2 separate regions of the Homo sapiens genome follow, and region 1 is linked to region 2. A link means that fine-mapping ties the variant in region 2 to the expression of a gene that starts in the linked region. Tissue or cell type: whole blood. Region 2 holds a variant in brackets; the other region holds the start of a gene. All regions are shown on one strand. Distances are between the middles of the regions.

The links. PIP is the estimated chance that this variant, and not a neighbour inherited with it, causes the effect.
Region 1: it holds the start of HELLS, and the variant in region 2 is fine-mapped to the expression of HELLS in whole blood (INTERVAL, PIP above 0.99).

What each region holds. Positions count from the first base shown.
Region 1 is chr10:94,544,204-94,546,812 of GRCh38, forward strand. HELLS (helicase, lymphoid specific) reads left to right here and starts at 1,585. Exons shown (of 22, transcript NM_018063.5): 1 at 1,585-1,749; 2 at 2,174-2,295. The coding sequence starts at 1,719. RefSeq lists enhancers at 641-1,265, 679-728, 1,266-1,890, 1,891-2,514 and a silencer at 1,439-1,518.
Region 2 is chr10:94,497,631-94,500,395 of GRCh38, forward strand. TBC1D12 (TBC1 domain family member 12) reads left to right here. Exons shown (of 13, transcript NM_015188.2): 6 at 2,591-2,697. Among named protein-coding and RNA genes, the nearest start is that of HELLS, 47 kb to the right of the region's middle. The variant T/A (reference allele first, on the strand shown) is at 1,447.

The DNA of each region.
Region 1 (2,609 bases), 46 kb after region 2:
CACCACAGCCGGCTAATTTTGGAAATGTTTGTAGGGGCCAGGCACAATGTGTCACGCCTGCACTCTCAGCACTTCCGGAGGCCGAGTTGGGAGGATCCCTTGAACCTAGGAGTTCGAGACCAGTCTAGATAACATGGCGAAAAACCGTCTCTACCAAAAAACAAAAACACACAAAAACCCCAAACCAACAAAAATTAGCCTGGAATGGGCTAATGTCCGACACTAAAATGTCCGGGCGTGGTGGCACGCACCTGTAGTCTCAGCTACTTGCTAGGCTGAGGTGGGAGGATCAACTGAGCCCAGGAGGTGGAGATTGCAGTGAGCAGAGATCGTGCCATTGCACTCCTGCCTGGACGACAGAGTGAGACCCTATCTTAATAAAATAAAATATAGAGACTAGGTTTCGTTTCTATTTTTTATGAGACGGAGTCTCTCCCTGTTGCCCAGGCTGGAGTGCAATGGCGCGATCTCTGCTCACTGCAACCTCTGCCGCCCAGGTTCAGGCGATTCTCCTGCCTCAGCCTCCCGAGTAGCTGGGACTACAGGCGCCTGCCACCGTGCCCGGCTGTTTTGTATTTTTAGTAGAGACAGGGTTTCACCATCTTGGCCAGGCTGGTCTTGAACTCCTGACCTCGTGATCCACCCGCCTTGGGCTCCGAAAGTGCTGGGATTACAGGCGTGAGTCACCGCACCCGGCTTGTAAACTCTTAAATTTTGTATAGACACAATCATACAAGTTGTGGGAGTCAAAATGAAGGAAACGGGTGGTTACATGGTAGGTATATTTAATGCCATACATCTTAAGAAATTGGAGGTGGGAAAGGGAGCCCTGGAGAGGGAGACAAAGGAAATAGTTGAAAAGGAATGCAAACAAGAAAAGGAGGAATTGAAAGCTGAAGTGAAAACCAGGGACAAGAAAAGCTCCGCTCCTTCCTTCACTGCCCACTCGAATGAATGAATCCTGTTTGGTTTCCTGAATCTTCCTTCTGCTGGCCACTCCGCTTGGTCCATCACTTCTTTCAGCTTGCCCTTATCCTAAACAGCTTTCTTTAACCCAGTCATAATCTTAATTTCCTGTTCCTTCTCTCTCCCGTCCCACCCACAAAAAAGCCCTCCTCTTTGTCATTTTGGGGGATTTTTCACTTAAGATGTGAGCCGCGCGCTGCGGGTGCGGCGAGGCTGGCCCTATAAAAATGTTTCTGTTTCTGACATCCTCGTGCAGATACGCAGACGTCTCTACCTACAGGATCATGGGCTAGCGGGTGCTCAATCACAGCAGCCAGCGTTGGAAGGCGCCTTGCAAAGTATTAACAGCACTATCAAACTTTAATTGCGTAGTTCGGAACCAGATATGTGAGGAAACTGGGTTCTCCACGATCGGCCACCTCGCCCAATCTCACAGGATAGTTACAGGCTGAGTTCGGCAGCGGGACCCAGTTTCCTCCTGAGAGAGGTCCAGGTAAAGGTTTACGGTTGCCACAGGTCAGTCCTGACGAAAACCGCAAGCTGCGCCAAATCTCGCGCAGCGGGGCGGGAGGGCGGGTGGGGAATGTAAGGTATCGCGAGATGACAGGATTTTCCCGCGAAGGAGAAGCGCGCTTTTTTCCCTGGCGGGGGATTTGGCTAGAAGGCTGGGCCGGCAGCGGTTGTGAGGAGTTAGCTCGCGGCATTGCAGGCTCTGAGAGGAGGGGACCCGGTTCCCGGGTGAGTGTCCAGGCATGCCAGCGGAACGGCCCGCGGGCAGCGGCGGTGAGTGAGGAAAACCTTTTGGGCGCGGGTGGCAGCCTGCGGGGCTGAGGTGGGCAAGCATGGAGGCTGCGGCGGAGTTTCGGGGAGGGAGCCGACCCCGGGCAGGGACTGAGGAGGAAAGGAGGGTTGGGAAACTGCAACGGTGAGTGGAGGACACCCCGGAATCGCACGTATTAGCATGCCGGTGAAGATTTCACATAGGCAACTGCATTTTCCCGAGCATCCCGAGTTGTAAACTGTGGTCCAGGCGACTTGTAGACATTGTGAAGACTTACGGTGTCTTCTGAGAGGTGATGCTGGCGTCCCCTCGGTCTTCAGCTTTTGCTCCAGTGCATCTCGGGTGGGAGAAAGGCTGTTTCTTGTTGGAGTTGAGTAGTTGGTAATTTTTTTAAAACTGCAATTTGAAAGCTTTCTCCCCCGTCAGGCTCGGAGGCTCCAGCAATGGTTGAACAACTGGACACTGCTGTGATTACCCCGGCCATGCTAGAAGAGGAAGAACAGCTTGAAGCTGCTGGACTAGAGAGAGAGCGGAAGATGCTGGAAAAGGTAATTTAGGCATCAGGTTCGTCGTCGTGAAAGCCTGTGGTAACCTCGGCTTTAACCCGGAGGTGTGGTTTGTGTTCTTTGCTTTCCTATTTAGTGGGCTTTTTAATAACTGAAAGAAAACAGCTTTATTACTTGTCTTTTTTGTATGTTTACAGATATTGCCTTTGAGAATCCTTTCGCAAGTGCTTTGAATGGTGTGTTTCTATGAGATGTAGTCTTGGTAGTCCCATCACTTTTAAATGAGCATTTCAGATTGCTTGTTTAGCCATGAAAAGTCTTTCAAAGTCCATAGTGAGTTTTTTCGTTTGTCATCC
Region 2 (2,765 bases):
GGCCTCAGCCTCCCGAGTAGCTGGGACTACAGGCGCCTGCCACCGCGCCTGGCTAATTTTTTTTTTTTTTGTATTTTTAGTGGAGATGGGGTTTCACCGTGGTGTCTGCTAAATCTTACCTATCCTTTGGGACCCAACTGAAATGCTAATTGATTTATGAAACTTTTAATGTCTTTGGTTACTGTGTTTTCTTTTTTTTTTTTTTTTTCTGAGACGGAGTCTCGCTCTGTTGCCCAGGCTAGAGTGCAGTGGCACAATCTCGGCTCACTGCAAGCTCCGCCTCCCGGGTTCATGCCATTCTCCCACCTCAGCCTCCCGAGTAGCTGGGACTACAGGCACTCGCCACCATGCCCTGCTAATTTTTTGTATTTTTAGTAGAGACGGGGTTTCACCATTCACAGGATGGTCTCGATCTCCTGACCTTGTGATCTGCCTGCCTCGGCCTCCCCAAGTGCTGAGATTACAGGCGTGAGCCACCGTGCCCGGCCTAGTTACTGTATTTTCTTAATGCTAACATACCATCAATTGTAAGACGCACTATTGATGTAATAGCAGTTATTTGGAAAGAGAATATTAAATATATAAATGTATTAGAAGATGCACTTATTGTTAAAATGATTTTTAAAGTGTTTATCTCATAATCAAGGAAATATGTATGATCTTTCCCTTATGTAAATGTCCCATCATCATACTTTGAGACTAATATACTTATCTTGCCTTTGCATTTATTTATTCATTTTTAAGTTATTTTGCCAGCATCTTTTTAATGATAAATAATAATTGTATATATTTATATGGTACAGGGTGATTTGTTTTTTTGTTTTTGTTTTTGTTTTGTTTTGAGACAGAGTCTCCCTCTGTCACCCAGGCTGGAGTGCAGTGGCGCGATCTCAGCTCACTGCAACCTCTACCTCCTGGATTCAGACGATTCTTATGCCTTAGTCTCCCTAGTAGCAGGGACTACAGGCATCTGCCACCATACCCGGCTAATTGTTTTGTATATTTAGTAGAAACAGGGCTTCACCATATTGGCCAGGCTAGTCTCAAACTCCTGGCCTCAAGTGATCAGCCTGCCTTGACTTCCCAAAGTGCTGGAATTATAGGTGTGAGCCACTGCACCCTACCGTGATGTGTTTTTTGAGGGTTTTTTTTTTTCAAGACGAGGTCTCACTCTGTTGCCCAGGCTGGGGTGTAGTGGCGAGATCAAGGCTCACCGCAACCCCGACCTCCCTGGGCTCAGGTGATCCTCCTGCCTCAGCCTCCTGAGTAGCTGGGACTACAGGTATGTGCTAACACGTCCAGCTAAGTTTTGTATTTTTTTATAGATATGGGGTCTCACTGTGTTGCCCAGGCTGGTCTCGAACTTTTGGGTTCAAGCAATCTGCCTGCCTTGGCCTCTCAAAGTGCTAGGATTACAGGTGTGAGCCACCTGCCTGGTGCAATGTG[T/A]TGTTTTGGTATATGTTTACATTATGGAATGATTAAATCAAGCTAATTAACACATCCATCAGCTCACGTATTTCTCAGTATTTTGTGGTAAAACATTTAAAATCTGCTCATTTAGCAATTTTGAAACATACAGTTCATTATTATTTATTATAGTCACCATTCTATGTAATAGGTCACTAACACTTATTTCTTCTAACGGAAGTTTGTACCCTTTGATCAACATCTCACCTTTCTCCATTCACTTTACTCCCCGCTCCCCGGCCATAACCACCATTCTACCCCCTACTTTTATGAGATTGACTTTTTTGGATTCCACATATAAGTGAGGTTATGTGTTGATTTTTCTGTGCCTGGTTTATTTCACGTGGCACAATATCCTACAGGTTCATCTGTGTTGTTGCAAATGACAGAATTTCTTTCTTATTGCCTTTTTACATAACATTTTAAAATATGCCTTATCTTCCCTCTCGACTGGAGGGTTGGGGATATCTTCTGCAATGCCTACTGTAGTTTGTACATTGGGAATTTGTTGAATATTGGCACAGTGTGACATATTATCTGAGGCACTTTACATAAGTAATTGCATTTGAGTCTTAGAACTTTTATAAGGTGTATGTATTTTTACTCCCATTTATCTTATAAGGAAACTCAAGGTCAGAGAGGTTAAGTGATTTGCCCAAGGTTATACATTTAATTAATGGTTAAACTAGATTGGATCTCAGATCTATCTGACTTTAAAGCCGACAGTTTTTTTTAGCAGACTTTACTGCTTCTCAAAAACTAGGGCCTTCCCACTGTAGATTCTTGGTTGTTTTGTTTTTGGTGCTGAATTGGTGATACATTTTTATGTCCCTTTTATCCTGTTTTTTAAATAATTGACTGCATATTTCTGATTCTCTCATTGACATTTATAAAACGCAGTTCCCTTTAGATTACTGTTGCCCCTTTGGGATCCTATACATCTTGTAGGCTGTTGTTGCCTGCAAGCATGAACGCAAAGAAAAGAATGCATTACATACTTAATTCTCTATAGTCCTAAAAATGATTTGATCACTTGGCCATAGACTAAAGATAATCCATCATGCAACTAGTATTTTTGGTATAAAAAGTAACTTTCTCCTTTTTTCTCCTCCTTTAATTCTAGGCGTAGTACAAGAAGAGTTCGAGAATTGTGGTGGCAGGGATTGCCCCCTAGTGTCCGTGGGAAAGTTTGGAGTCTAGCTGTAGGAAATGAACTAAATATCACTCCTGGTTTGTATTCTACGTTCAGTTATTCCCACATGTACAAATAGCCATCTACAGAGTTACATAGCAGATTA